Regions from separate parts of the Homo sapiens genome. Here regions 2, 3 and 4 are each linked to region 1. The links come from fine-mapping of genetic effects on gene expression. A gene starts in region 1. Each other region holds a variant in brackets. All regions are shown on one strand. Distances are from middle to middle. Region 1 holds the start of PLCB1 (phospholipase C beta 1). Region 2 overlaps PLCB1 (phospholipase C beta 1). Region 3 overlaps PLCB1 (phospholipase C beta 1). Region 4 overlaps PLCB1 (phospholipase C beta 1).

Evidence for each region. PIP is the estimated chance that this variant, and not a neighbour inherited with it, causes the effect.
Region 2: its variant is fine-mapped to the expression of PLCB1 in blood mononuclear cells (TOPMed, PIP 0.99). The same link has a PIP of 0.9 or more in whole blood.
Region 3: its variant is fine-mapped to the expression of PLCB1 in whole blood (TOPMed, PIP above 0.99).
Region 4: its variant is fine-mapped to the expression of PLCB1 in whole blood (INTERVAL, PIP above 0.99).

The regions. Positions count from the first base shown.
Region 1 is chr20:8,127,370-8,135,480 of GRCh38, forward strand. It overlaps PLCB1 (phospholipase C beta 1), which reads left to right and starts at 4,897. Exons shown (of 32, transcript NM_015192.4): 1 at 4,897-5,381. The coding sequence starts at 5,283. RefSeq lists a silencer at 4,983-5,122.
Region 2 is chr20:8,472,036-8,480,146 of GRCh38, forward strand. All of the region lies in intron 3 of PLCB1 (phospholipase C beta 1), which reads left to right. It overlaps LOC124900459 (a long non-coding RNA gene), which reads left to right. Exons shown (of 2, transcript XR_007067518.1): 2 at 1-8,111. Among named protein-coding and RNA genes, the nearest start is that of PLCB1-IT1, 230 kb to the left of the region's middle. The variant A/G (reference allele first, on the strand shown) is at 4,207.
Region 3 is chr20:8,434,183-8,442,293 of GRCh38, forward strand. The region is part of intron 3 of PLCB1 (phospholipase C beta 1); the gene reads left to right. LOC124900459 (a long non-coding RNA gene) reads left to right here. Exons shown (of 2, transcript XR_007067518.1): 2 at 1-8,111. Among named protein-coding and RNA genes, the nearest start is that of PLCB1-IT1, 190 kb to the left of the region's middle. The variant A/G (reference allele first, on the strand shown) is at 3,291.
Region 4 is chr20:8,235,127-8,243,237 of GRCh38, forward strand. All of the region lies in intron 2 of PLCB1 (phospholipase C beta 1), which reads left to right. Among named protein-coding and RNA genes, the nearest start is that of PLCB1-IT1, 9.5 kb to the right of the region's middle. The variant C/CG (reference allele first, on the strand shown) is at 3,739.

The DNA of each region.
Region 1 (8,111 bases):
TATTCATGATGGAAAAGAGCTTTTCAGTTCTAGAAGGTTAGAGACAAAAATGAATATGATTAAAGTTTATAGAATCAATGCAGCCAAAAAGAAGTTTACTAAATCACAGACCACAGAATTAGAATGCTGTCTTTTAAGACTAAAAGAGTTATTTAGGGCATAGAAAGGGAATATAGTAGAATTTCAGAATAACCATATGTGTGTTAACTACTATTGATTACCGCTGTGACAGGGACTTAGATATATGATTTCATTTAATCTTTGCAATACCTCTTTAAGACAGCTTACTGTGGTGGTTAAATATGTAGGCTCTGGGGTCAAACTGCCTAGTTTAAATTCTGGTTCACTCACTTACTAGCTGGAAAATGTTGAACAACTACTTAACACTTCTCTGACTCAGATTACCCAGCTATAAAGTGGAGATAATAGTAACCCGGCTCCTAGGGGTTAATATGACAGTGAATGCATTAAAAATGTAAAACCCTGAGAAGAGTATGTGACATAAAAAGCTTTGACATTATTATTATTTCTCCATTTACATATTAGGACCTTGTATTTCAGAAGAGATAAGAGACTTTCCCACGGTTACGTACGTAGTAATTGGTAGAACTGGCTGTTAAAAGATATGTCTATTCAAATCAAAACACTGTCCTTCCCACTGTGGCAGGCCTCAAGTGAGTTATGAGCTGACAAGAGACTGGAGTACATACCACAATCTAGTTTCTAGGGAAATTAGGACTATTTATATTACACTGTGGTTAAAAGGAGAGAGAAACTACTCATATCTGCCTTATAAGTTGTAGAAGTATCTACCATGGTAGTTAAGAGTCTAGGTTCTAAAGTCAGACTTCCTAGGTCTCCATCTCAATTCCGAATTTTGTAACTGGAGGAGGTTAATCCATCCTCCAAACTTTAGTATATAAATCAGTAAAATAGCATACAATAATATTATCTACCAGATCAGCTGAGAGTAACAATAAAGCTTAAATAATAAAGAGATTTATTATCTCACTCATTAAAAAGTCTAAAGAAAATTTAAAGGGTTTAAAAAGCTCATGAAGGACCAGGTTTCTTTGCATCTTTCTTGTCAGTGTCCTCTTTACATAACAATATGAGACAGAGAAAGAGAATTTCCCTGAAGACATTAGTCAGAACTGAGCCCCTCATATAGCTCTTAAACCAGTTACAGACAAAGGGGAATGGAATTATTGACATTAGTTTAGGCCAATCATAGTTTGTTCCTTGGAAAGAGAGAGGGGCCATGTTTCCTAAGCATGACGACCACCCAAATTAAGTCAGGGTTTGCTTACAAGAAAAAGAGGGTGGAGAGTGGTGTTGAATAGGAAGGGTTATGTTTTTTAGTGTCTGGGAAGTGCTTAGCTTAGTGCTCTGACCCACAGTGAGTGCTCAATAAAGGTTAGCTTTGCCAGCTCCCTGAGGCTGACATTCCCAGAGGGCAATTCTGTGCTCTCACAAAAAACAGACCTTCCTATTGTTTCAAAAAACAGTACACAGCACCGAACTTGACGGATCACAGGCCTGGCTCACACAATTTTGGATTTCTTACAGATCCCTTTGCATAGCAAAAATCTCCACACTTGGACACAGGAAGGGGAACATCACACACCGGGAACTGTTGTGGGGTGGGGGGACGGGGGAGGGATAGCATTAGGAGATATACCTAATGCTAAATGATGAGTTAATGGGTGCAGCACAACAACATGGCACGTGTATACATATGTAACTAACCTGAACGTTGTGCACACGTACCCTAAAACTTAAAGTATAATAATAATAATTTAAAAAAAAGAATGGGAAAAAAACAAAAAAACTCCACACTTTAGAAACATTTCTATCTTGTATACTGAACAAAAGGTGTGGAAAATGAGGGAGTTAAACCATGCTGCTTCAAGCATCATGCTACATGTTGAAGGTATTTATCCTGTAGTTCTCCTTTAACAAACTGCGTCATTTTGCTGGCTGAAGAAACTCTTGCAGCCCATGTTTGTCTTGAAGACAAATCCTGTTCAGATTTCTACAGCGTTCTCTCCTTTTTACGTCCACGTTCACAGCAACAGCTGGGAGGAATCAGGGATGCTAGATGAAATACTCAACTATCCATTGCCAATAATGGTGGTTACCAAATGACTCCCAACTCAGTGCCATTCAACAATGAACGTTTATTGTCATGTTCATGAGTCTGCAGGTTGGCTGAGTCTGGGAGATCTAGGATGGTTTCTACTGGACTTGCTTCCAAGCTGTAAATGGGGCTTAGGTCTGTCCTGATTGTCTCCTTAGATCAGAGGCTCCCTGAGGCATGTTTATCTCATGGAAATGATAAGAAACCCAAGAGGGAAAGCCCAACCTCAAAGCATATTTTGAGCCTTTGCTAATATCACATCTTCAAACATGCCATTGGCCAAAGCAAGTCACATTGTCCAACATCAATGGGATGGATAAATAAACAGGGTGTCTAGTAAAAACTGTAAGGTCACAAAGAAAAATGTGTGGACGCAGAAAGGAGCAGGGAGCAGAGAGCTATGATGCAATAAACTACCACAGGAGGCTCAATCTACTTCTTATTTTGCTTAGAGCTCATTGTAACTCTCCAATCTCCTCTTCTAGTGAGCGCAGCCCTGTCTTGCCTTCCTAAGCCACTGTGACAGGTAAAAACTATTTGGCCAATAATCTTTCCAGTAAATAACAAAGAGATAGAAGGAGAAAAGGAAAAGAAAGGAAAGGAAAGGAGGAAAGGAAAGGAAAGGAAAGGAAAGGAAAACAATTTGGTATGATCAGTTGTAAGGACAATTGAGAAGTTCTGGAGCCCTGGAAGCAGAGTTTCATTGCAGTACTCTGAAGTAGAGAAAATCGACTTGAGACGGTGACTGATACCTTCTGTGAGGTAATTAGCAAGCCAAGGCTGCTGGCTAGAGGGACTGTGGACCATTCAGGTTTTAGTTTAGGGACATGTGATCAAAATGAAACCAGTCAGTTTTTCATGAAATTCTTTGTAGCAATTGGCTTCCAAGCACAAGGCAAGACCCTCAAATGACAGCAAGAGTCATGGGTCTTGTTCACCAGGTTATCCATGGTGATTACAATAGTGGCTAGTATACAGCTGGCTACCAATAAGTATATTTTAAATGCATTGAAATATTTAATAGCAAATTTCTGTATTGGATTTTGGTAATCTTTTGACTGAGTTCATAAGCATTGGGCCTTGGAGTCCTGAGGGCAGAGAACAGGGAGAATGAAGGATTAAGAGAATGTAGTGTTTCTCTCCATTTTTCTCTCTTCGTATTCTTTCTTCTTTTTAAAAATCAACCTTTTTGAGATATAATTTATTTAAAACAAACTGCACTCAATTTAGGCGTACTTACAGAACTTACAAGTTTTGATAAACACACACACGATATAGAACATTTCCGACATGCTCATCAGGTGCTCGTAGCCCTTCCCTGTCCATCTCTACCTATCCCTGGCCACAGGCAAGCTTTCTGTCAACATAGAATATCTTGCCTATTCTGCAATTCCTACACATGGAATCAGGCAGCATACAGTCTATCGTGTCCGGCTTCTTTTACAAAGCTTAAAGTCGCGATTCATCCCTGATCTTGCATGCCCACTCATTTTTATTGTGGAATAGTATTCCAATATTTGGGCATACCACAGTTTGTTTATCCATTCACCTGTTGATTGACATTTGCAGGCTACTAAGAAGAAAGTTCTTCACATCACTTTACAAGTCCCTGCAGACTTGAACGTTTTCATTTCTTTTGGACAAATACTTAGGAGTGGAATTTCTAGGTTGTATGATAAGTAAATATCTTACTTTATAAGAAACTATTCTCCAAAGTGGTTTTACTATTTTATATTCCCTCCAGCAATGAACAAGAGTTCCAAGCTATTTCTCTCTCCGCCCCCCCACCTCCCGCGTGTGTCTCTCTCTCTCTCTCTTTCTCTCTCTCACACTCACTCACTCTCTCTCTCCCTCTCCTCTCTCTCCTTAATAAAAAAAAAAAAAGAGTTCCAGTTGCTCCACATCCTTTCAAGCATTTGGTATTACCAGTCTTTAAAATTTTATCCATTCTGGTCCTCCTCTTTCCCTTCTTCCCTCCCTCCCTCCCTTTCTTTCTTGAATTGAGAAATGTTTGTGGAAGGAGTGAAGACAAACATTCCTGGACCTATGTTCCTAAATGAGCAAGTTTCTATTAATAAGACTCTCCCCCACCCGCCACACATCCTACACACTCAAGGAGAGGAGCGGGAGAGGGCACCCTCTTTCTTCCTCGGAAAATAAAACCTTTGCTTTCTTTAGGATGGGCTTTCTGTCTCGAAAGCACAACGTAACCGTTTGCCCGGGTTTCAAGATCAGCGCGCTGCAAACTCTCAGGCGCGGCCAGGTTTCCTCAAAGAGCCTCTCAACTGCGCTCTTCTCTGCTGATAAATGATAATTCTCTTCAAAAAGCTGGTTTGTGGCTGGCGCTGGAGAGCTCCAGCTAGAGCCAAAAGCCAGGGGTTGCCTCTTTGGTTCCTCCCGATGGGCCCCTTTTCCCAGCCAGTTGGGATCCAAAGACGCTCCGGAGCTCGAGCCCAAATTCCCAAGAAAACCCCAAAGAGCGTAAGGCTCCTGGGGACCCCTAGCACCTCTGCAACCAGGGCACGGGGCATGCTCAGAGCGAATGCGGGAGGCAGGCGTTGGCTGCAATGGGGCTCGGGAGCCAGGAGGTGCCGCTGCGTCCCCGCTTCCTGGCGCCTGACCCAGCGTGCAAAGTTGGGCTGGGAGCCGCGGGGGGAAGGAAGGACCCAGCGAGCGAGGGTGGCGGGGAAGGGGGGCGGGGGGGAGGAGGAGGGAGGAGGGAAAAGAGCGGTTAGGGGGGGCGCCGGGCGTGTGTCACTCGCTCTCTCCCTCTGTGTATAGAGGATGTGCTGAATGGTGCGCTTTGAGGCGGCGGCGGCGGAGGAGCAGAATCCGCCGCGACTGGCAGCCTCGGCTGACCGGCTCGGCTTCTCTTCGCCTTCCGAGGCTCCTCATCCACCGCGGGCTCCAGACCTCGCGTCCCGCCCGGGGCATGGCCGGGCGCTGCGCCCCCGCGCGCTCTGCCTGCTGAGCGGCGCCGGAGGGAGGTGCGGAGGCCGGGAGGCCGGGGAGGCCGGCGGGGAGCAGAGTCGAGCGCCTCCGGAGCAGAGAAAGGAGCCCGCGCCCCGCGCCCCGCGCCCCGCGCACGGTCCCCAGTCCCTGCCGCGCTCGCCCGGGCCGCCCGGAGCCCAGATGAGCCCAGATGGCCGGGGCTCAACCCGGAGTGCACGCCTTGCAACTCAAGCCCGTGTGCGTGTCCGACAGCCTCAAGAAGGGCACCAAATTCGTCAAGTGGGATGATGTAAGTATTGGGGCGGCCCGAGTCGGGGCGCTGGCTCGGGCACCGGGCAGGGCGGGCGTCGTGGGGGTGGGGCAAGGGGCGCGTTATGCAATGGGCGCACTGGGAGCGGGCAGGGGCAGCCTCGGGCGCACAGGTTGGCATCTGCCAAAGCGGATGTCCAAGGGCAGAAGCTTTGCGCGCGCTCCTGTTTCATCGGGCTTCAGTAGTTGCCATCCTTTCTGGGTCTGGCAGGCGCCCCCTGAGGGTCTTACATCTTTTGGGCCAGTGGAGAGGGAGGGGCAAGCTTTGCCTGGTGACAGGTCCTGAGAGTTCGGAAAGTAGGGAGTGTGAAGTTGGGACCAACTGGAAAGCGCCTGGTGTGAACAAATCGCGTCCCTCTCCGCCTGCGGACGCACCCCCTATTACCTCTTTTGCCCGATTTCAAGAAGGAAGGACCTGAAGTTCAAAACACTTTAGTGATTGCGAACCCTCTTGGCGCTTTTGTGGGAGCCAAGGCGGCGGAGGACACAACGGTCCAGCCAACAGGTGGTCGTTGATGCCAAACTTCAGCGCCTGGCTCCGGAGTGAGGGTCCCTGAAAAGGGCTGCGGGGACACATCTGGGGAGGGCGTGAACAGAATGGGGGCCCTTGAGGGGTCCTGGAGGGCTCATGGGCCTGCAGGCAAGTGGGGAGGGCTGACTTTTGAGAACTGAGCTGATTGGAGTCTTCTGCCTGAAATAGACAGGTTGAGAGTTTGCCCCACGATTTACCTGCACCGTTTGCCAGGTAGGGCAGAGCCTAGCCCAGCGCCGGGGTCTCTAATGCTTTACGAGCGGCCCAGACCCCAGGACTTCAAATGACTTCCCCTTCCCCTCTACCCCAGTTGTCTTCAAAACACGTAAATTAGTTATCCAGCTGAAAACATGCGAATCTTCGGATGGAGAACATTATGGTATCAGTTTTATGTCCTGGGTGTCATTCTAAAGGTTCGATAAGAAAAACCTACTGAAATAAACCCGAGTTGCCAGGCTCTAAGCAAATTTAAGTCCAAATGACTAATACATCTCTTAATCAGAAGGAATTATAGGAGAATGAGGCGTTCTTCTTGCCGAAAAGATTTTCCACCTAGTAAATTATAGCCTGTTATCCTCTAGGGTATTTTTCTTTAATCTTCTTAAGCCATTTTCCAGTGTCTGAAAACAATTTAAATATTCCAGGTAGTGAATCCAATTACTTAGCTGAGTGCGTCTGTGTCTATATTTTGTCCAGCTGGAAGCGCAAACGGAACTTGGAGTATGAACCACAGCTTCCTTGAAAGCTCGTGCCAATTATTAAATGCTGTAGGCAAGGATGTAAACATACATCTTTTTACCATGGGCTTCACACTTTTCTTCTTTCTGTTCCAGTCTAATTGTACTGAATGTTTCTGTAAATGGAATAGAATCTAAACAATAAATTCAGACGCAGATTAAATGCTTTGTGTCAGGGAAAAAAAAGACAAAGAAAATGCAGTTCAGCAATAAACAAGACGGTCTTGCCCATTTTGAGATCCTTGAATAGAGAGGTGATGTGATGATGGATTTACTGAGAAAGAGAGTGAAGGGCAGAGGAAAGAGAAAGAGACTTTGCAGAATTTAGAAAAGGGAGTTTCAGCGTAAGCTCTGGATTTGTATACAGTGATGATTCTAAACTGTATTTTAAATAATTCTCTATAATTTCTTGTTTGGGAGAGAATAGCCAACATCACATTGAGAATGAAAGTATTCTATGAAAACACATTTTGGTATATCCAGGTAGATGACTTTCATTATGTGCATTTCTGTAACACATATTTCTTGCTCACCTATTACTGCCAATCCTAGACTGGATTCTGGGGTGGTGAAAAAAGTAGACAAAATCCCTGCTGTTACGGACCTTACATGCTAGGTGGAGGAGACAAAAATCATCAAAAACACCAATGAGAGAGAGATTGGGTGATGCATTGAGGGTAATAGAGAGGACGTTAGTGAAATACCAACCAAAGAAGAAGTTGAAAAGAGCTCCTTCTGAGCATTGCAGCAGTGAGTTTCCAAGGAAGCCCTCCTGAAAGAAAGGACATAGTCACTAAGGAGAAGACCAGAAGAATTTCAGGTCTTTTTTAAAAAAAAAAAAAAAACCTAGACTGCACTCAGGAGTCAAGTTATCTGGAATATAATGAGCTATCTTGCAGGCTCTTTGGTTCTCTGGGTCTTCATGCTGATCAGTGGACTACAAGGGACCCAGCCTTTCTTAAGGTTGCCTTTCTCTTCCCCAGGCATCCCTTTTCTACTCTTCTCAGCTCGTATTTGCCCTTCCAGAATCAAGCCAGTTCAAGTTATCTGGCTATTTATATTGTACCTTAGTGAGACAGTGTGTTGAAGACAAAAAAGAACCAGATCTTGAATCAAAGGCCTGAGTTTACCTCCTAGTTCTTTCACCAGTAAGCTGCATGACTTTAGGCAAATCACTTAGCTTCTCTGTATTTTTGCTGCTTCTTGTGTAAAAGCGTGGTAATGTTACAGGACATTCAAAAATGATGAATTTGGGGCTGTTTAGGATGTGAAGAAATTATCTCTTGTTCCTGAAGTGATTAAAGCAGTATAATCACTGGTCTTGTTGTCTTGACCACCATATGGAATGGAAGATGTCACCCAGAGGTTGCAGTGCCATGCATAATTTGCTGGCCACCTACCAAGTCACAGTGAGGCTGTGGATGCTCTAAGGGTGGTAGTC
Region 2 (8,111 bases), 340 kb after region 1:
TATGCAAAATTTTTAAACTATTCCATATTCGTAATAAGTGAAAAAATAATTATTTTTGATTTCTCCCCTAAGGTACTAGCAATGTGTCCATTAGGAAATTTAGCTCTTATTTTTGGTGAAGTAGCAGAATTTTTGTTTCAAGGCAAATTCAGCATAGATACTTGATTGTAAAGATATTATTGTTTGCAAATCTTTGTGGAGTTTTTTGGGGGCCAAATTGAAGCATTAACTCAAAAGAATGGCCCTTTTCTTTTATTGTTATGTTCTTTTCATTTTATTTATTTGCTTTCATACATTTTCTAATTAATTTTATGTTTTTACCAATACCAGCCCCATCACTGGGGTTCTGGTGACCACTTAATTTTACTGTGAAGTAGAAGCCAGATGATGGATAAGTCAAGCCCCAATATAATAAAGCCACCTTAACTAGTTAAACTGATATTATAGAGCTTAGCTCTGACTCCAGATATACATATATACCATTACTTTATAGAACAACTCTCTCTGGAATAGCCGTGTTCTCTTTAAGCCAGGTATGATGGTGCATGCCTGTAGTCCAGCTACTGGGGAGGCTGAGGTGGGAGGATTACTTGAGCCTAGGAGTTCAAGGCCAACCTGGGCAACACTGCAAAACTTTGTCTCAAAAAAAAAAAAGTTATCTTCGTCATTGAGATGTTGCATTGATCACCCAAGTATGGTGAAGAATTGAAGAGTAGCCAATTAGAGTGCTCGATTATGAAAATATGATGCAAGATAGGGACCAGGAAGGTCACCACAGTTCTTCCTGGGGCTAGTTGCTATGAAAGATAAACCCCCACATCTCAGTAGCTTAACACTATTGAAGTTTACATTGTTGTTTACAAAATGCTCTTTCTGGTGGACTGTTTCCCTTCAAGCCATGATTCACATGGCCGGCATTCTTCCATCTTGTAAACCCATCATCTACAAACAGAGACATCCAACTTACCCTGCTAGGCTGCATCAAGCCAGAAGGAGAAAGAGTATGGACGGTCACCAGTGGAAGGTTTCTGTGAATGTGACTCTAGCTCTAACTCTGTGAGCTAGAAGTCAGTCATATCACCAAACCTCATCCCAAGGGACACTGGGGCATGTAATCCAACCACATATGCTCAAGAAGATGAAATGGATTTTGGTGAACATGCAGTGATCTTGACATACACTGCTGAATATTTGCTTTTTTATATTTACAGTGTTGAAATTAATCTGACTAATGAATTGGAGTTAGTTATCTCCAAAGGAAAAAAAAATTACACATGCACGCACACATTAATTATACATTAGTCTTAGGCTAATAATTAATATATCCACATGTTAAGTAATTTCTTTAATAAGTTCTCTTCAAATTAGTTCAAAGATGTCTTTGGCATTCCTAGAAGGCACATTTTATTGATCTGTTCTCAATTTACAAAACAAATAACTGACTCTTTATATCTCCTGAATCTCCTTTGAACATTAAACTGAGTAGCAAAGCATCACACATAGCAAGAAAATTGATTTTGACAATCCAGCCTTGTTAGTTATCATTTCAACAGGTGCCATTAGTATCAAGACCGAGGTGCCTGCCACAGCTCTAGTGCAATAATGTGAAGTAAATATCCATCCAAGCACCCTGGCCTCTTCTCCAAAATAGAAAATGACATCATGTAATTGGTTTTGTCTGAACTGCTCAGTGAGTGAAAATGTGTTTCAGAAGAGTTAAGGCATGATGTCATTATTCCTGAAGTGGATTCTTGCAAAGGCTGGGCACTCAGCAGCCTGAGTCTTAAAACCAGCAGCAGTACAAAAACCTGATGCAGAACCTTAACCCCATTTATATAATATGGTGAATTTTTTCTCAAATGGGAATATGGTGCATTATCTTTAAAAACAAGAAGTGATCACATGCTCCAGAACACCACTGATGCCTCTAAGAAATCTTATTGAATTAAGACAGTTAATTAATTGTCTGCAATAGTCTTGACTCTTGCCTGTCTCTCACTTGAGCATGTGTTGTAAATTAGGCAGGAATATCATTAGGGCATCCAGTTCGTTCCCATGCCCCAGTGGCAAAGAGGGGCAGGACATGAAGATGATTTTATTTATTTAACAAATACTGATCACCTGCTATGTGCCTTGTAATGATCTTAGTGCTGGGTATATAGCCATGAATAAAATGAGATTCCTCTTTTTATACATAATAAGCAAATAAAAATACAACCCAATGGCAGGTAGAGTTTCATGCTAGGAAGAAAGATAAAGCAAAATGACATGCTAGAGGGTGATGCGGGAGTGGCATGGACTGGAAGATGGGCTGTCAGAGTATGACATTTGAGCAGAGGCTGAAATGCTCTGAGGGAGAAAATCATAAATCATGTGGATATTTGTTGGGGAAATGATTATAGGTGTAGGGAACAGCAGGGGCAAAGTCCTTGGATCGGAGTGTGCTTGGCAAGTTTAAAGATGAGCAAACATGAATGAGGGGTAGAGTGGCAGGGATTATGGTGGAGGAGAGGCAGAAGGAGCAGAACATGCAACATGCTGGATGCTGCTGTAGGCCCTCATAAGGGACTGACTATTGAGCCATAAAGCCACTCGATTTCAGGCTTGGCATTCATGCTCTAGCACCAGAAGTGTAATGCTGGGTGGTCTATGGGCTCTGCATTTAGGCTGGGGACTAAGATGTGACATTTCTGGACCTTGGATGATTGTCAAAGGATGGGAGGTTGGTTCTGGGTTCAGAGAATGGGGAAGTACATTGCCCATTAAGAATTTTAAGAGATCTAAGTGTGACCACAATTGATGATTTTATTATCTTCACTTCAGTGATAAAATTCTTCACCCTCCTCATTCCATAATATTCTGCTGCTTTCACCTGAAGTTCGCCAGGTATGATTAAACATTGAGTAATTCAGACCAAAGCTTCCAGATATCTAGTAACAATATACACTAGTCAAAAAACAAGATCACACACACAGACACACACACACACACACACACAGACACACACACACACTCTTTAGTATATTTGGCAAGGAGAAATCATTGAGTGCATGAATTTATAATGGGATTGTATATTTTCAATCAAAGATCTTACATGAAAAATGTTCAATCATTAAGATAAGGGAGACATTTATGTTATGTGGTACCCAAGATATGCCAGTAAGGTTTTTTAAAATACACTTTATTCATTTGTTCAAAAGCCATTTTGGGTGGTGGAGGCTTACTCTGTGCTACTGAAGACATAATGAAGATCAGGAGATACCCTGGCAGCCGAGAGCAGTGGTGCATGCCTGTAATCCCAGCTACTCAGGAGGTTGAGGTGGCAGGATTGCTTGAGCCTGTGGGTTGGAGACCAACCTGGGCAACACAGCAAGACCCTGTCTCAAAAAAATAAGTGGGAAAAAAAGACAGAGATGTCCTTGCAACAAACCAGAAAGTGAGGTATAACTATTCTAATTTTACAAACAAGGTAACTGAGGCACAGAGGAGTTCAGCCTGTGTTCGGAGTCACACAGCTGGTAACATGAAGTTGAAACACAAATGTAACTTTTTTCTACACCTTGTCTTTTTAAAACCAACAACATCTTTCAGACACTTGCACACTTTTTTTCAGATAATTGGTGTATGTAAAGGATTTCACTTCACATGGACTATTTGGTAGATATATAACATCTTAGATATAGCCAATATCTTGTATAGGAACAATGTTTGTATGAAGTAAAGAAAAACAATAGGATAATCAATGCAAGGTAGAAAGTGATAGCACACTTCTGTGATTAATACTAGGATAACTGGTAAAGAGTATATGCTATTTTGTATTACTATTTCCATAACTTCCAATCATGCACATGGCTGCTTCTCTACAACTCTACAAAGACAGTATCTAACACACTGTCATACACCACTGCTTCCTATCTTGTTAAAATGCCAATTCTGACGCAGGTCTGGTGTGGGACCTGAGATTCTGCATTTCTAACAGACTCCAGGGATGCAGATGTCATTGCTCTGTGCTCTTAAATGTGGAGTTTAAGGCTATTACAGTCATTTCCGGCACCAACCAAAACACTGTGTCTTGGCCCCCACGGCTACTGGTGGTCACTTTTGCAAGAATGTTTCCTGGGAGACCTAGTAGAGCAGCTTACAGGAGTTCACAAAGACACAAAATGATGGTAGGAAGGAATAAAGAGGAGAAGTAAAAGTGTTGCA[A/G]TGGATTCTGTACCTCAATCCTGAAGAAACCACAGATCAGTCACTTCCTTCTTGTTCAAGTGTGTCAAGTGTGTCAAGTGTGTCAGCCTGATTTGGCACAGCTGACTTGATGAAGCATGATCTCACACAGCAAAGCTGTTGATCACCTTGAAGAATATGTACTTTGCTCCTTGGTGTAACCTAAATTTTACCTCGCTAAAACAAAACAAAAAGAATCTAATATTCTACTCATATTATTCATTCTGGCTGGATGCTAAAGTTAATTTCCTTAAGTGCTTCAGATACTATATTAAAACTATCCTTTTATCAAATATTTTAATATAAAGCTTTTGAAAACATGCAAGAGAATTTCTTCATTAGAGCCTTCTCCAATTTTAATGAGCACACAAATCACCTTAAAATCTTATTAAAAATATAAATTTTGACTCAGTGAGTCTGGGATAGGGATTGAAATTTTCCTTTTCTTAAAAGATCTTAGAGAAGGTGGATACAGCATCCTTGGAGCACTCTGAATAGACGGGCCTTGGAATATCTTATCTTCACTTGTATTAGGATGGCTTTTTTGTGTGTGTGATGTTCAAAATGATGAGGAAGCTATATGTTTACATATCACCAGAAGCTTAAAATGATGGAAAGGAGGCTCCCACCCCATCATATAGGCCATTGATCAAAGATTCTGCAGTCACACTATTTCCTTACCATGATGGATTATTCAAACACCAGCTGTAGGAAAAGGATTTTTTTCAGGAAACTGATGGTCCATTGTAGTTTTTCTGAAATCAGGCTGTACTTGAGGATTACTCAGCGGGTTCCAAAGAGTACAGACATTTAAGATCCACCCCAGACCAACTAAATCAGAATCTCTGGGCATGAATCTAATGAGTAGTCTCTAGACCAGCAGCACCTGCAAGCTTATGAGCCATACAGAATCGCAGGCCCCTCCAGATCTACTGAAGTACAGCTTGAAAAGATCCCCAAGCAATTCCAACGCATGTTCAATTTTGAGAGATGTTGCTAACTGGGAGGCAAAGCTGTAGAGTTGCCGCAGCAACTTAATTGTAAGGTATTAAAAGTCTCCTTTCCTATCTAATCGTTTGGATGTCTGCCAGGTATTAGGACCAAAGGAAGACGGGCAGACATAAGAACCCATCCAATGGTGGTTACATTGATTATATCCTTCCTGAGGCATCTGAAATAGTATAAAATAATAAGGAGAGAACACCAAAAATGTATCAACTTCCATGTAACTAGTGTGTATTAGCCCATTTTTGCTTTGTTGTAAAAGAATATCTGAAATTTAGAAATTTAGTAATTTAGAAAGAAAAGAGGTTTATTTAGTTCGTGGTTCTGCAGGCTGTACAAGCTTGGCACCAGCATCTGGTGAAGCCTCAGGAAGCTTTCACTCATGGCAGAAGGCGAATAGGGAGCAGGTGTGTCACATAGCAAGAGAGGAAGCAAAGGAGTGGGGAGGATGTGCCAGGCTCATTTAAAGAACCAGCTCTCGCATGAACTAATTGTGCAAGAACTCACTCATCACCAGGGCGATGGCGCCAAGACAGTCATGAAAGATTTGCACCCATAATCCAAGCAGCTCCCACTAGGCCCCATCTCCAATACTGGGAATAACATTTCGGCTTAACGTTTGGATGGGACACACATCCAAACCACATCTTAGTGCTTTACATAGACTGTTCCATCTATCTCTCCTCTTTGTCATGGGTTTTGGTTGACTTTCTCCCAGAAAGTCCTCCCTGCTTGTTTCTGGCTTTAAATCTATTGAGTAAAATTTATCTGAAGGAAATTTAATCAATAATTCAAAACAGGAATAGATTATTCATAGGGAGAGCTGTGCTCACAGTTTTGTTAATTTGCAGTGGTAGCATTCTTTATCACTGGCTGAAACTCAAGTAAAGGAGTGAAAGATCAAGTATTTGTTGAGAAACTATTTTGTGCCTAGCATCATGCTAAGGATTATGGTGACAACCGCAAAAGGTTAGTTTCATGGCACTTGTTGGAGATGCATGTATTTAACTTGCAAATAGTATACACAACTCGTGTGTTATTAAGTTATGAAATATTGAAAAAGCATAACATGGGAGTTTAATAATGGAACACAGACAGACTGAGCAGAAAAAAAAAATTAGTGAAGGGAGGTGTCATTTTGAATTTAGGCTTCACAGAGCCAACAGAACTTGAGTAGATTTAAGATGTGGACATTCCATTGAGAGAAAACAGCTTCAACAAAAGCAAAATATATAAATATACATATATAAATAACACACAGATGACAGGAAACAAATAATAATGAGAGCTTACCCTTAAACATGCAGCACTATTTTATGTTTTGCATTTTTAATTTTGGGCATAGAATTTCATGTATGTTGGGGAAACTGTAGAAATTCTTCTTATTCTAATTAAGGAAGGTAGCTTTGAAAACAAGCATATTTTAAATAGTTAAAATTTTCATTATTTTTTCCTCAAAATTATAGATTGTGGTGCTTTTTTGTAATTTTTGCTAACTTCAAAATGTAAAGTTAAAGGTTTTATGAAATATCAATTCTGAAAAAAATTTTCTGCTACTAATGATCTAAAAACTGCTATGTTAAGCAGGCTCTTTTCATAGATTAAAAATGCTCAAAATTACTTTGATGTAAACTTCATTCATTATACATGTAAAAAGCTTGGTTTACATGGCTTATAAGTCAGTTTTACAGTCTGGCTGTTAAGCCTAATTCTTTAGATAATTACTATGTGAAATTTTCGTTGTCATTAATTCTTCATTGTGGCAAACTGGCATGAGTATTCTCTATTATGGAGTAATAATATTAATAAGAAGTGCACATATTCAAAATAATGTAGAATTATATGCACTATAATTTACATATTTGTTTAATGTCTTATTTTTTATTATCAACTTTGCTTGTTTATTTGTTTTATGTCACCTGCTGTAGAATGCTAATTGGTAACAAATTATAGCATTATAGAATAGGTGCAAGCCATCAAAGTGTACATTTTTATGTAAATATTTTATTTTTATTATAGAATGAGTAACCTAAAGATAAATGCAGTGCATTCTCAGCAATAAGATAATGCTGAAATACATTTCAGAAGATACAATATTTTTAAACCTGACAGGAAATTATAAAACATTAGCTTACATGAAATAAGTTTCATTCTATATGAGCTTTAATACTGCAAGATCTATGTCTATTAACTGACAATGGAAAGTTTTGTGAGGAAAATGGTTGTATGCTATATCTTTGCTTCCACTAACAGGAAACATTACAGAGTCACAATTCTTAATAGACCGCAGGCTCCTTTACAACTTAGCCATCTATATTACTCACTTTTATGTCCCTAGCATTGGTGATAGATGGTGTTATTTATTCACAATTCTTTTGCTTTCCATCTTTGCCATGAGTGTAAGTGGAGTTGACAATCTACTGCATTGACTTGGCCCTGTGACTTGCTTTAGCTAGTCAAATGTTAGTGGATGTAATGACTTTACATGTGCTTGTGTGGTATGACTCCTTCTCTTGCATTTCTGCCCTTTACTATGAGAAAAATATCTTTTAGGTAGTTGACGATTTCGAAATGAAAAGGATATGAAGATCAGAACCCAACCTGTAGCATAACACAAATCTATATGCACAAAGCACGTTCCATGCAGTCATGTCTTAGTTCTGGGATTTCTAGGTATGGGATTTCCTTGAGCTGAGCACTACATGTAATAGTGATGGTGAACTATCTAGGTATCGGTTTCTAAAGGTTTTCTCAGTAGTGGGACAGTAGCTGAGAAATAAAGGAGAAATTGGCTAGGCCAGGAGACTTCTCCATCTCTAGGGTCGCCAGGTAATAGTTCAGATTACTTCAGAGATTTAAAGGTGCAGCATTAGAACATGGTT
Region 3 (8,111 bases), 310 kb after region 1:
TTAGTTTTGTGTCTGCACTTCCTTCTGGAATTTAAACATTTTTGAAAATACGGTCTCTGTTCTATTTTTTATTTTTCATTCCTATAAAGTTTTATTGAATGCCTATATGTGTCCAACATACCAGATCCTAAGGTTTCACATAAGTCAGATTGGTCTCTGTCCTTAATGGTGTTATCATATAGCAGAGGACAAAATCATAAAATAATAATAATATATGAAAGATATGTAAGCATGTAAGGTCAAGAGGGTGGAAATTTCTTCTGTCTTATTCACTGCTTTATTGCTACTCCTAAGGGAGTGCCTAAAACAGATTAGATGTCCAATTAGTATTTATTCTATCAATTACTGTCCCAGGCATTTTACACATATTAGAAATATGAGAACTAATGTTTATTGAGCAATTCATATCTGTATACCAAACATTCTACTGGTATTTCAACACCGTGAACTAGAAACAATTACTAAGGTTATGAAATAGGAGTTAACACTGAAGTCTAGAGAGGTTATGCAATTTGCTTATGGTCACACAGCTAATAAGAGCTAGATAGAGGTCTCCTCTAGAGCTCATGAGCTTAACCAGTACCTCCATCCATGACACTGTCTTACCCTAATACTGGAGGAGTTGAGGAATAGGCTTCCCCACATCGTGGATAATAAAGCTAAAATTTTCTAAGGCAGGGCCTGGTTAATGGAGGGCACATGCAAGCTGACACTCTCAGGACTCCAAAGTGTACACACTTTTCACTATACCACACAGCCTCTCATGCACGTAGACAATCACACACATACAAACATTCTAACAAAAGTTTGTAGGAATTGTGCTGGGACCATGCTGTATAGCTGTAGTCCATGGTGTATAACATGCCTGCAGTAGAATATCTATTGAAATGAATAGAGCTACAAGGTTAATCCATTGGAGAAGGAATTTGGTGTGATACTTACAAGCTCCCCAGTGGCATGAATGTGTCACTCTTCACAACACTGCCTAGTTCTTGTGTAGATACACTATAAGCATTAAGACAATTTATCCTTACTGTACAAGACTATGGAGTGTAGATGTGGTAGACCTAATTCTGAGATGGCCTTCAGAATCCCATCCGTTGGTGTCCATGCCCTGCCCATTAAGTGTGGGCAAAACCTAAGGTTTGCTTCTACCCGGTAGAATATGACAAAGGTGAAGGGATTTTGCAGCTATAATTAAAGTGTCATGTCAGTTGATTTTGAGTAAATCAAAAGGGAGATTATCCTGGGTGAGCCTGACTTAATTAGGTGAAAGCCCTTAAAAAAGGAACTGGGCCCTTCTGGAGGCAATAGACTGTTCTTGAAGACTTGCTGAAGTTAGTGGCTCTTTTGGAGAAGCCTACATATCAAGGAAATATGACAGCCTCCGGAACTGCAAGCAGCCTCTGGTATCCAAGGCCCCAACAAAAAGCCAGAGCCCTCAGTCACAGAGCTCAAGAAATTGAATTCTACCGTCAACCTGAATGAGCTTGGAAGTGGATTATTCCCCAATCAAGCCTCCAGACTTTAACCCAATCTGGCTGATCCCTTAGTTACAGTCTTATGAGACATTGACAGGAGAGTGGGTTTAGACGTTAATATCCCATTTCCGTTACCAGATATACTGCAAAGACAGAGATCATTTTTTCAAGGAAGTTGTGACTAAGCACCATTTGAAATATCACTATTGTGGTTTTGACTGACCCCAGATGAAAAGATGAACTCTCCTAAGATTTCAGGCATCTTTAAGGATAGATTGTAATGATGCCAGGTGATTCCTAGATGAGATACACTAAAATTCCTCTCCACACAAGGAAAATAACAGTGTGTTCTCTACTTCTCTTGGAAGTTCCATCATTAAGGATATTGAATATGACCAGGCACAGTGGCTCACGCCTGTAATCCCAGCACTTTGGGAGGCTGAGGCAGGTGGATCAGTTGAGGCCAGGAGTTCGAGACCAGCCTGGCCATGACGAAACCTGTCTCTACTAAAAACACAAAAAAGTTAGCCAGGCATGGTTAATTAGCCCTGCTACTTGAGAGGCTGAGGCACAAGAATCAAGAATCACTTTAACCTGGAAGGCAGAGGTTGCACTGAGATCGCGCCACCGAACTCCAGTCTGGGTGACAGAGTGAGACCCTGTCAAAAAAAAAAAAAAAAAGAATATTGAACATATGTTTACATAAATTAATTATTTTGAGCAATGACTATTTCTGCTTCAGAAAATCTGGACTTCTTAAGTTGTGTTCAAGAAAAAAAAAACAAGACAACAAACACTTCAGGTTTATCCTTTTATGTTGTGACTATGTGGGAAGAGATTGTTAATTTAAAAAATCTGTTAACACCAAACTCTCTTTTTTCTCTTTTCCTCTTTTTTTTCTCTCTTCTCTGTCTCTCCTCATTTTATAGGTTTTGGTGTCTATTTATTTTTTCTCCATGTATTGCCACCCTTTGCTCTAGGCTTACATACTTTTAACTACAAATCCAGGAAGGATCCCTGATTCCACCTGTTCCAGTGAAAACCCTGATGTAGCTTTCATTAGACCAACATAGAATATGTGCCAACACTTGACCTAGCCACCGTAGCCATGGAATTTTATTTATTTATTTATTTATTATTTTCTGAAACAGAGTCTCACTCTGTTGCCCAGGCTGGAGTGCAGGGGTACGATCTTTGCTCACTGCAACCTCCACCTCCCGGTTTCAAGTGATTCTCCTGCTTCAGCCTCCCAAGTAGCTGAGATCACAGGCGTGTGCCACCACACCCAGCTAATTTTTGTATTTTTAGTAGAGATGAGCTTTCACCATATTGGCCAGGCTGGTCTCAAACTCCTAACCTCAAGTGATCCACCCACCTTGGCCTCCTAAAGTGCCGGGATTACAGGCATGAGCCACCGAGCCTGGTCCGTAACCATGGATTTTAATGATCTGTTCAGCCAGGCCTGGAATGCACGCCTTCCCCTGTAGCCAGGAGTAAAATAAGCCTATCAGAACCATGCAGGCTGGAGTTACATTTTCAAAGAGGAAAATGGATAAAAACGTTCCATTACTGAGACAACCTCAGATATTTTCCTCAGAGTGGAAATCAGGAAACCAACTTAGAGTCATCTCAAGATTAGAGGGAATTTGGGCTAGAAGGAGAATATTCTAAAGCTACTATTTACTAAAATATTACCTAATAGTACAGGAATAGACAACTGTATCAATGGAGTAGAAGAGATTAGAAAGTGTTCAAACAAGCATAACTCATTTAGAATGGATGCATGAAATGCTATTTCATTGTAGCACT[A/G]TTGTTTTAGAAATGGTTTTATTAAACTATACACAAATATATGAACACAAATCCATTACAGTACTGAGTAGTGGAATCACTATTTCTCAAATAACTAGTCATCCAGTACAGTAGACTGACATCTTACTGTTTTTACCATCTATTTGTTCTCTCTGGTATGGTGTTTATTTCTACCATTATTTGTACTTATATGAACATTTTTGGGCTGAGATGGCTATCAAAAATGTGCACCAGAGTGGCAAAGAAAAATTCCCTATTCAATATAAAAATACCACTTTTACTGGGGCTCTGGGAACCTTCAAGACAGTGAGCAAGGAAGTATTAGGTAAAATTACCAATTATGTAGCTAATTAGATATGAGGGGAAATCCTTGAAAACTTAGTAGGCCACATACATATCACTGCAGCCTCTAAAGATTGACAAGTAGAGGGAAATAAATTGCCAATAAATGATACTGAGAATATATGTCCAAACAGACTATGCCATTATAAGGTAATCACTCCCTGAAACATAAAAAAAGTCTATTTTATGAATTTTATATACTTATAGTTTATTTTATTATTTGTAGAACTTTTAAAATTTATATCTTCATATATGAATTTCATTTTTATTTTGTGTGTTCTATCTTATATATTTGTAGATAATTTCATAAATGTTTATTTTTGCTAGTTAAGCATCTGATATAAATGACATTTCCAATTAATAGTGAAATGGTGTTTCCAGGAAAGATATTGGAACAATGAATATCCGTATATAAAAGTAATTTTGGCAACCTACTTCACACCATATAAGCAAATAATTTCCATATTATATACATACCTAAATATTGAGGGAAAACCAAAATTGCTAGAATATACATAATATACTTTTTATAACTGTAGAGTGGGAGAAAACATTTTTAGACATAGCGCAAAACCCAGAAGCAAAGTAAAACACTGGTAGGTTATCTGCTTAACACTGTTAAACTTCTAATGGGCAAAAGACAAAGCAGACAAAGGTAAAGACAAGTTACAGGCTGGGAGAAAACAGTTACAAGATATATCAGAAAAAGGGAAACATATACCATCTCTAACATACTCTTACATGGCTCTTACAACCCAATAAGAAAGTGAAGTTCTCAGGTATCTGTGAATGCAAGCCACAGTTGTCTCTTAGCCACAATGTCTAGGGTGCGTCAGGATTCAGACGACTGCAGTTCCTGGCCAAGTACCCCCTAGCTTTGCTGAATGACATGCCTCTTTATGGCTTATGGACAGCAACCATTGGGTTCAGGTCTTTGCCCCATTTCCTGACCCAAGGGGCCACAAAATCCTTTGTCCTCACCCCAGGCCACAAGAAGAGCATCTCCTCAGAAAGTGGCCACTGGTTATTTCACCTGGCCCCAAGACGATGCAAGGCACCCACTCTGCTTTTTTTGTGATGAGATGGAGCATGACTGGCCTTGCACATGACCTTCAGTCACTGCCTCTTTGCTCTTTGGTTGTTGACTTTGTCGGCAGGGAATTCAGAGGGAAGGAGAGTCAGCGACGTGCTCTCGTAAGGTCATCTTAGAAGACCACTCTCTCCAATTATTTTAAGCAGCTCTTTAGAGCTTTCTACATTGTGAAGTTCTTTATCCTACCTGTGTATCCCTAGGGCTTTACAGAGTGGAGATTCAGTAAATATTTTGACAAGAGTGAGCAAATGATTTAACAGTCGATGGAGTGCAAATTGCCAACAACTTACTGTAGCGTTTCCATCCACAGCATTCAGGGTCAGTGGCTAAAATACTTGTCGTAAAGGTGCCAAGCCTCCAGGCATCTAGCAGGGCATTAGCACACCGAAGCATTTATTAGACTCAGGAATATACTCTTTATTGGCTCATTTCAAACAATACCTAAAAAAGAAACCTCTTTTTTTAAAGCCTTCAAAAGATGGCAGGATGTATTTTTTCCTAAGACCCATAAAACAGGTAACATAAACTGTTACTATTTCATAAGAAAAACTTAGGTACAGAAATACTCAAACACTTATCCAAGGGAGCTGGAATTTGTGTCAAATTTTCTTGAGGAATTACATGGCTCGTACTATTTAGACCATGTTCTAAACAAGCATTTATCGCTCTTTGAAGTTGTGTCGTATTTAGAAATTTAGATTCATAGTAATTAGATATTTAGATAGATTATACTGGAATATTTGGGTGGCATATGGACAGCAGGTCTGTAAATAAAATTTAAATCTTCATTACTATATTTTCTACATTCTGCCTTATGCTTGATTTAAGCTTTTTTCCCTTCTTTTCACTGGTTAGATTTTTTTTTCATTTATTTTTTCTTCTAGGTCGTTGACCTTTTTATAGGCATAGAAAATGCCTTGTACCGTGCACCAAAGTTCTTAAAATTTTAAAAGCTTTCTTTGACTAAGTCATCCCTTGCCCTCTTTTGAAGCTATTCTGACCTCTATTTTCTATTTTATTTTAATTAATCATATCTTAGGATTTGTAGGCTTATATGTGGATGCATGTATATTATCTTGTTAAGGGTACATAAGGCAGTTATACAAAAGATTATGTTGGCTTCAAAGAATGTTAAACAAAAGGAATGAGAAGATTCCTGAATAATATAGTTATGCATACTCAGAGCTTCTTTCATAAGGGCATTTGAAATGTATGCTGATCACCTCAAGGTCGCCATGAAATGGGAAGATTTAAACTAGTGGTGTTTGGACAGAAACAACTTTTACCTTGAAAGCCAGCAATCAATGACTGAAAAATGTATATCTAAGGCTGGAAAATCATTTCAGTATTATTAAGTATTCTGATGACAAAAAAGGTTCAAACATTTGTGACTCCCATAGCTAGTATTGATATGGGTGATGGGAAATAAGGATGTATTTATTTTATTTGGACTTTAGTCATGTTTTTATTGTCTGTAAAAATGACTTGACTGTTACAGCTAGAACATTGAAGAAAGAAGGGAAGCAGGTCAAATGGGTCCCCAGTGATTCCCTGTGGCACCTGGACTTTCTCCAGGAATTGATTGTTACATATTATTCCATCAAACACCTTTTAACCAGTCCAGTTCTTGTCTATGGATCCAGACAATTCAGTCTTCCCAGGGCTTACCCATGTTTCCATATATCCAGAAAGTTTGTATATTATGGCTAGAAAAGCAATTAAACCACTTTGGAAGGGTTGGGGGAAGGGAGGGTTAGGGAGAGACTTGTTAAAGGATACAAAATTATAGCTAGATAGGAGGAATAAATTCTAGTATTGTATAGCTTTGCAGGAAGACTAAAGTTAACAATCATATGGTATATAGTATCAGATAGCTAGAAGGAGGATATTTAATGTTCCCCACACAAAGAAATGATAAATGTTTTTGATTTTATATATATATATATATGATAATTACCGTGATCTGATCACTATATGTTATATGGATCGAAACATCACTATGTACTCCATGAATATATACAATTATTATGTGTCAATTTAAGAAATTAAATTAAAAAGAGAAATTAACCCAGCCTCACCATTTTACAGCAGAGGGACTTGAGGTGGAAAAAATTCAAGAAACTTTACTCTCGTCATTCAACGGAGTGATCTTTTGAAAAAGGTAGCATTACAAGAAATCCAGTATATACCCACAAATACGTGGCCACATTTCTTGACAATGTTCCAATTATTATTGATATCTACAATTAGAATTAAATCGTTGTTTCTAACCAGTAATATTCCAAGTAAAGTAGTAACATTGTTTATTCATTGGCATTAGGCATCTATGGTTAGCTCTACAGAATTATAGTTGAAATCTATGTGAAAATATCAATTTTTACACTTACCGACCATAATAGGATACTTACAGAAGAGCTTGATACCAGACTGTCAGCCAAAGATTTTCTGAATTTGGTATGAATTTTCTAAAGGTGGAGTGATTTGCTTCAAGAGAAAATTGCTTTGAGTGCATTTTGCAGTCAAGAACTTTGACACCTTGCAATTTACTAGTTGCAAAGATAATCTGATCACAAAGTAAGAAATCTGATCGTTGTAATTCCAATTTATATCAATAAGAAATAATAAATAATCTTTATTTTGGAGGTTTGCTAAGTGACTGAAAGTTTATCTAAATACAGACGGTTTTGCATGAACGCTAGGGACTGAATGAAACACTGTTTGCCTACCAATTAACCAGGCAGGTGTGAAACATAAGCAGTGACCGACCATAACAGACGATCTCTCAGATATTGATCACTCTTTTAACAGAAAAATTCCTATGGGCAGATAGAGGAGGGGGAGAGGGCAGCATTCTCTTGAGATTGTCTTAGGGAAGGATGATCATGAAACTCTTTATATCTGAAAAAAATTTTAAATCCTTTTAAATATCAATCCAGGAGGATTAGCTAAGCAGCAATAAAGCACCTTATAACTGTTACATAGTTAATTCAAAGAAGCATTGTATCAAGATAAATAAATATAGAAAACAAGGAATCCATTTTCAAGAAACATACTTTGTTCTAGTTCTGACTTCAGATTTAAAACACACACACATACGCAGAAGACACACTGAATATGATTGAATCTAGAATATAGAAATAAAATAATTGAATATATTCCATTTGTTAATGTGTGCATGTGTTTTCAAGACATGGCTCAATGATTCTGTAGTTTTTTCCTTATTTTTATTTTGAGAATTTTCTAGAAAAAATATGTCTTAAATACTTAATTTTTACTTCTTGGTTATCTTAGTCCATTTGTACTGCTACAGCAGAATACATGAGATGATAATTTCTAAAGAACAGGAATTTATTTTCTCACAGTTCTGAATACTGAGATGTTCAAGG
Region 4 (8,111 bases), 110 kb after region 1:
GTGGCTATCTTTCAAAGTATGTGTCTGAGATATTATTCAGAGCCTTTTCCAGCCATTTAGAGATATATGTGGAGCTTAGAGAGAATAAAAATATAATGTGCATTATTTACTAGTAATTCACATAAAATATTCCATTTCTAAAGCATGTTGCAGAATTATTCTACTGGTAAATTAAGATTGAAGTTGTCCTTAGATAATAGCTAGCAGTATAATAAAAATACCACATAATAGAAATTGATTCTGAAATGTAAGAATGTTTTATTATTGGAAAATATATCCATATAATTATTACTTCTACAGATAAAAAGAGGAAAGCCACATGATCATACTGATAAGGCAACAAAAAGATGTGACAAAATTCTAATAATTTTAAAAATCTCTTACAAATTAGAAATAGTAAGATGCTATCACAAACCAACAACATCATACATGATAGTAACATTCTTGAGCATGTCTCTAAATTGGGAGAGAGCCAAAGTTATTCGTGCACGTCCCTATTATTGAACACTGCTTAATAAAATGAATTAAGCACTATAAATATTAGAATTGTCATTTTATAACTTGCGTATGAGATGACTGTCTACCCTGAAAAAACAAGATCAACTAAAATGTTAATCCCAAGGAAGAGTTCAACACGGAAATTATTTCTAAAATACTTTTATAAAATGAGAAAGTTTTTTATGTCCAGTAATCAAAAGTTAGTGAAGCTGACATTCAAAACCTCAAGCTCAAATATAAAGGACCTATATTTAAAAAAAATCTTAAGGCGTGTATAGGATTCTTGTATTAAATTGAAACTCTCAAGGCAATCCAAAGTAGTTTTAAATAAGTAGAAGCACTATATTTCTGGAAGGAATAATATTTTAAAGATACATGTTCTTTCCAAATTAAATTACTACAAATTCAGTTAAAGTTAGGAAGGTGTTTTTCAAACTTGGAAAATGACTCAAGTTAATTTGAAATTTTTTGAAGAAACTACTAAAAAATGCTGAGGGAATTATGCCAACCAAAATTTCAAATATAGTGTAAGACAACTAATATAGCACTCTATTGATATGGAAATCAATTCATCAGTAAAACAGAATAGAAAGTTCATAAATACACTAATTACTATAAAAAATAACACAGGCACAGTGACTCACACTTGTAATCCCAGTAATTTAGGAGGCTGAGGCAAGAGGATGGCTTGAGGCCGGGAGTTTGAAATCAGCCCAGATAACATAGTGAGACCCCTGTCTTTACAAAAAATTCAAAAAATTAGCTATGGGTAGTGGTGCCTGCCTGCAGTTCTAGCTGCTCGAGAGGCTAAGGCGGGAGGATCGCTTGAGCCCAGGAGTTTGAGGTTGCAGTAAACTATAATCTCACAACTGCACTCCAGCTTGGGTAACAGAACAAGACCCCATCTCAAAATATTAATTAATTAATTAATATAAAATAAAGGTACTAAATCAATTGGGTAACACAGGATTATTCAATGAGAGGCAGAAACTACAAAAGGAGAGTAAAGACAAACTTGATAGCACCATTATTTAAAAATACTTCTACACAAAACAATTCACAAATGCCAAGTCCGAACCAAACAAACTGGAATATTTTTGCAAAATAGATGACATTTTAGAAACTTTAAATCCTTATTCTGTACTAGCCTTTATAAATTAAAGAATAATAGAAATATGGGTAAACGATATGAATGGGAAAGTAAAGTCCCCCAAAGAAAGAAAGAAATGCAAACACAAATAGATATGAGAAAGTTATTAATTTCAGCAATAATCAAAGAAATACATACTATAACAATAATTATTTTCACCCATAAAATTTCCCTTATTTTCAAAACTAAAAGTTCCAGTGGTTGACAGTGGGGAGGTTAAATACCACTCCAAGGTATTTTGCAGATAATTTACATTGGTTCAGCTTTTCTGGTAGCCTTTGGCATATTTATCACAAGCATGAAAGTCCTCAAGCCCTTTAATTCAAAAATTTTATTTTTAATGTATTATTCTAAGGAAATTATAATGAAAGTAGGCAGACATTGCAAGGAAATTGCTTGTAGTACTGATCAATAGTATAACAAATTGAAACATAAACTGTAAGTATTCAGCCAAAGGAATAAATTAAATAATCATAATATATGTCAATAGTGGAATCGTAGGCAGACATTAAGAAAGCTGTTACCAAATTAAATAATATATAAATATGTTCATGCTCTAGTGTCAAGGGAAATATGCAGATTACAAAGGAAAATGAACAATAAGATCTTATTTTTTAAAAAGAAAAAATGCCCAGAAGTCATATGGACATGCACGAAAGTAACAGTGGTTTTCTCTGTCTTGTGTGATTATAAATGATTTTAATTTACTTACTTGTACTTGCCTCACATTTGCAAGTGTTTTTCTACAGCAAGCATATATTACTTTTATAACATCATGATAAAAATCATATTTCATTGTATTTTACAATGGACATTTTGTTTTCTAAAATCAGAAAGCAGAAATGAAATAATTATAACTATATCTTAATTCAGAGTTTAAAGGAGAAATCTCCATTTACTGGTTTCCCCATTACTACTTAATTGGCTAATCTAGTTTTTCATTTACCCTGATGTAGACACAAATAGAATCTGCAATATAATCAGGCACCAACCATGGGATTAATTAGCTAACTAATTACGTAAATGGGATCCCAGTTTTAACAGTCATACCTCTGCAAAAATTGTCTTTTTCTTTGCAAAAACAATGAAGTGTCAACTTTTAAAAAATTAATCCTGCCAACTTCTTATAAAAAGATTGTGTAATGTCTTGGGGAAAGATTTAAGATATACAAGTTAAAGATGGCCTTTGAAAGACAGACAGATTTGAATTTAATATTTGACTCTTTTCTAAGAATTTAAAATTATTCTCAAAGACGAAAATGAATGGTCTGAAACTCAACGAAATCTTTTCCATGTGAGTTATGCACTCATGGTGTCCCTGTAGGAGTTAGAGAGGTGAATAAATTGAACGAGTAATGATTTGTACTCTTAAACTTCCTGGAAGGAGAAGTGGCTTGGAGGGTGTTGGTGGGAATAGCCAAGGTATGACTGTGATTTCAGGTAAGATAATTTGAGGAGCTGACAATTTACCTGCGTGGAAGTATCCAGCAGGCATTTGGGAATATGTAATTGGCTCCTGAATCAGACATGTCAGTGAGGTGATACTCATATAGGAGTCAGTTACCTAAAAGTGACAGCTAAACCTTATGAAGGCAATGAATTCCAGGTTAGTGCAGAGCCTCTGCACAGTTCCAAACCCAGGGGATGCTCTTCTCATTCTCTTATCTGAAGTTAAGCTCCAGGGCTTATCATTCACATAAACTACATTATGAACAATGCTGTTTCCATCTCTCTATCATGCCAGATGTCATATACTAGATGAGGTCTCTCAGAAGAGCTAGACAGAAGTATAAGGACTCACCTTTATATATACAAAGTGAGGAACAAGACAATATGTACAAGGACTCATATTAACATATGCAGGATGAAAGGGGAAAAAGAGGTCAGTTAATTGGTTTTAAAAAAAAGATGAAATAAGACAGGCTCAAGGAAAACGGAAAGGGGGCAAAATTGCGGGAAGTGTTTGGCCTGTGGTTTCAAATGTTATAGACAGACCTGAGGCAATGATAACTGAGACAAGCCACTGGGCCTAAAAGTATATAGAAATGGGTAATCTTAGGGATGGTGGAGTCCATTGAGTAAATGGGTGG[C/CG]TGGGGGGAAGACATCAGACCCCGAGAAGCAGAAGCTAAGGCCTGGGGAGGAATGGAAGACTATGGACTTAAGAGTGTAGCATCATTGGTCGAAAGACTTTTATTTATATTTAGGGAGACTAGAGCATGTCTTTAGGTAGAGCAAAAGGAAGCAGGAGAGAGGGGAACACTGAAATACAGGAAAAAGAGGGGATAGTTGAGTAAACAGAAAGAACCCTAAGTGAAAGCAGGAGGAGATTGGAGCAGTATACCAGGACCGGGATGAGCCCTGGAAAAGAGAAGGAGCACCTATTTCTCAGAGCTAGGATGAGACTGAGGTGGACAGGGAACTAACGCCTTCCAGAACAGAAATATGTGGTCCGATGAGTATTGAATGCAACTTAAAATCTAGTTGGAATGTGATGGATAAGAAGAGACCCAAAGTCATCAACAAGCCTTCTCATGAACTTTCAGTCATTAACCTTCCTATATAGTAAGGACAGAAATGATGATTTAAGCCATCTTAGGCAAGGCAGTGCTAACAATATGCTTTTGTAAAGTCACCATCCGGTGTAAGGAATAGGCACCAGCTTAGTGATGTTTGCAAATAAGCCAGTGGTGGGTGTGGATAAATTAGAGAGAGTACCAAATGCAGTTTGAAAAGTGTTAAGTTTTGTCTCTAGTAAATTGCATGTAGTTTTACCAAATAGTGCTTCAGTGTTCTCTTTGTGTTTCCTCTTTCTGGTACTTAAAAAAAAAAAAAAGTAAAGTCAGTTCATGTAGCTGTGAGATAAATCTTGAGAAAAAGAGTATTGAATAGGGTACTGAGTTTATTGGTTAACACTTAGGAAAGATACGATGCTTGATAGGAGATCCTTTTTATTAAACACAAAGAATAGCATTTTATTCTATGCCTTAGAATTTTGTGATAGAATTGGCAACAATTCAGTTCACAAAGAGCCTTAGCACTGTGGCCACTAATGCACTGTAAAATGGGTTTTTGTTGATGTTGATTTGGAGGCTGTGTTAAATATCTTGCCCACAGCTCTAAGGTTTTGGGTACAAATCTATAAAACTATTTCACATTTATGCTACTTCCTTTTAAGACGATAGGTAATTCCCAATGATTTGCTTATAAATCAGTTATGGTTTACAAAGCAGACCAAGAGACATTCAGATTTCTGAAAACAAATTATCCATAGTTTTCTATTAAACATAGAACTGGGAAAAGACTTAGTGATTACTTAGACTATGCCTCTGATTTTTAAAACGAATTGTAATTACAACCATAATCTATGATTTTTTTTCATGAAAAAAAACAAAAGCTGTGTGAATGAGGTCAGTAACTTCCTCAACACCTCTCAGTCTCCCAAACAACAACACAGGTTAACCGTTATCAGTTTGCTGTGAAACCTTCCAAAATTTTCATGATATTGACACACACACACACACACACACACACGCACACACACACACATTTGCTTAATATGCAGTATTTAATGTATGTTCAATACATAGCATTTTTTTGCATTTTGCTTTTTATACTTAGTGATGTATCTTAGAGATTTTTGCATATCAGTATGCCTAGAGCTACTTCACTATTTTTATTTGATGCACAATATTTCATCACATGGATGCGCCATCATTTTTTTCACTTTCTCCTTAAATGGATATTTGGCTTGTTTTAATTTTTTTTCTGTTACCAATGATGCTGGAATGCACACACCTCCTTGTGCATAAGTATTGGCCTTCTTTGGGATACATAGGGAAGCGTAAATGCATTTTACATTTTAAGTGGCATTGCCAACTTATCCTTCAAGATGATAGTATAGCAGCCTTTTAATTTTAGAAATTAAGAAGGTTAAGAAGGTAAGGCACAGAGATTTTATAGCTTGCCAGATAGCATAACAATTTAGGAACTAGAAATCAAATATCCTATTTCCTTTATAGATTTCTAGTGTCTACATCAAATTTTTTCCAAATTTATAAAAGAAGAAAATAATGTATATTAAACTAGCCCCATGAAATTTTGCTTCATACTTTTCCTATTCTTTACCAGCAAAGCAAAACCAGTTCTGATTGGTCATTTAAATCAATGAGTTGAATACAAACAGAAGTATAATTGCCAAATTATGGGTTTTGGGAAACTATGGTGAACACGAGATTCTTTACTTGTCTGTTTTAGGTTATTTTTCCAGGTTATGTGATCCTGTGATCACATATCTGCCAACATTTTCATGTTTTGGGTATTTCCTAATGTAATTGAATTTCTCCTGGTTTAGAAATTTATCAACAGAATCATCTTTATTTCTTCCCTTGATGTATTCCCAAATGTAAGAAAAATATGCATAGTGAGTTGATAAAAAGAATGCAAGTAATCTACTTGAAAAATTAAGCCTCTACTTTCCAGGAAAGATAATTTTAATGGGGTTTGGGTTCATTCTCTATGAGTCCTTCTCTATCCTAATGTCATGTTGGGTCACAATTGTCTGATGATCCTGGCTAAGCATTTGGTTAACCTCATTTTGGGTCCTCTTTCTCTCTTCACATGGAGGAGCACAGCACTTGAACGCTCTCGTGTTTGAGGACAACTGGGCTGACATCGAGTGAATTTTTGGAAAACTATTATGTCTTTGTAGTCACTTAATGTCAGCTTGATGTTGAAGCAAAGTTCTGTAGGAGTAAAAAAAATACAAGAAGTGCAATGAAATATTAATTAGGCACCGAGTAGAGGCAAGGAGCTGGGCTAGGCATTTTTATGTATGTTATCTAATCTATGCTCACAAGACTTACAACCCATGTTGTAAGTCTTGTTTTGTTTGATTTCCGTATCAGGAAATGGAGGCTGAGAAAGAGAATAACACATCAACTAGTATACACAGAGGTTCTCTAGCTTTCCCTACTTCTTTCTACCACCCTTCCTCCCACCTCAGTAGAAATCAGTGAACACTGGAGCAAAGAAGTCCTCTTGGAAGAAGCAGAGTTGGAGCTAAGTCCCAAAAGGTGGCTGAGATTTAGATGATTGAAGGAGGAGGGTTCCACATTTAAAGAGGGAGAGTAGTCTGTGTAAAGGCACAGATGAAGACAGGCATGGTACACACATGCTTTCACTGGGTTAATGTACAAGAACAGAGCTCTGTTCAACTGGCTTTGGGAAGTATAATTTTGGAGGATAAAGGGCATTGGCAAGAAACTCATTGGGGTCTCATGATAAACAGCCAGATATTAGGAGTCAGGAGCTAGAAGGACTCCCTGTGTCTCTCCAGAGAACTTAGTGTCTCTTCTTTCTCCCTTGACCTTCCTGCTACATGTTTCTGTTGTTGTTGTTTTTATTTTTTTTCTCTCTGCAGAATGGCTTATTTGCTCTACCCAGCGTGTGGTCACATCAGCTGCAGCAAAGATTCCAGCTACTAGCATCACTAGGCCTCAGTGCCAGATTCCACGGGCCAGATGTCTATCCCTGGTCCACTCAGCTATGATGAGGATAATGCTTTCAGATTCTTGTTTACCTCAGCCTGGGAGCAGGTTCTTTTATATCATGGCACAAGCAGCTCCTCTAAGAAGGCAATGATTAGTATTTGAACCACAAGGAACAGGAGAAGTGAGGGGTCAATGTGGTCAGACTTACTAAGGAGTACTTAAAGGCCACTGCAAAACCAGGCACCTGATCCTCTAATTGAGAGGGGAAGTTTGCAAGGGAAAGGTGTTTGATATATGGCAAGTTGAAAGGGTGGAGAGGCTGAGCGCCAGAGGTGAGCTGAAAGGTAATGGTAACAATAGAGGCCTAGGGATACATTAGTCGACTTAGAGAGAAAAGAGAGGAATGGCAATTGCTGAGGATGCAAGAAGTTACCTTGAAAGAAGGAAAAGCAGGATTTATTGACTGGTTATAAAGGCAGCTTTTAGCTCCAGGGATAGGGACAAGGTTGTGTGGCTTTGGGACATAAAGAAAGGAGAAGGAGGAGGAACCTGAATGTCAGGAGAGACATAATGCTTCTGGTTTGGAAATGTCATCTCTGGTTCAATTGTGCTATGGGAATAATGGCCATAAGGCTACAAATGGGGTGTGCAGAGTGAATTGGATAAGATATGAAGCTATGTTAATTGGAAGTTAATGAGATGAGAAGTGGGGAATTTTGGAGAAAAACAGGAAGTCAGTGGCCAGTAGCCTCAAATCTAAATTTGCATCGTTACGGGCATGCTATCTGTGGGTTTGTGATAGGATTTCACTCAGCTTCCAGGTGGCTAGGTCATATTATCAGGTGGTGAAACAGTTAAAAAATATCACGACCTAAGATAAAGTTTTGGTGTTTGCTGGAGCACAGTAATAACAGATGAGTTCTGTTCGGTAGGGAAAACTCTAGAAGCAAGCCCAGCACTTCTGTGGATAAGAC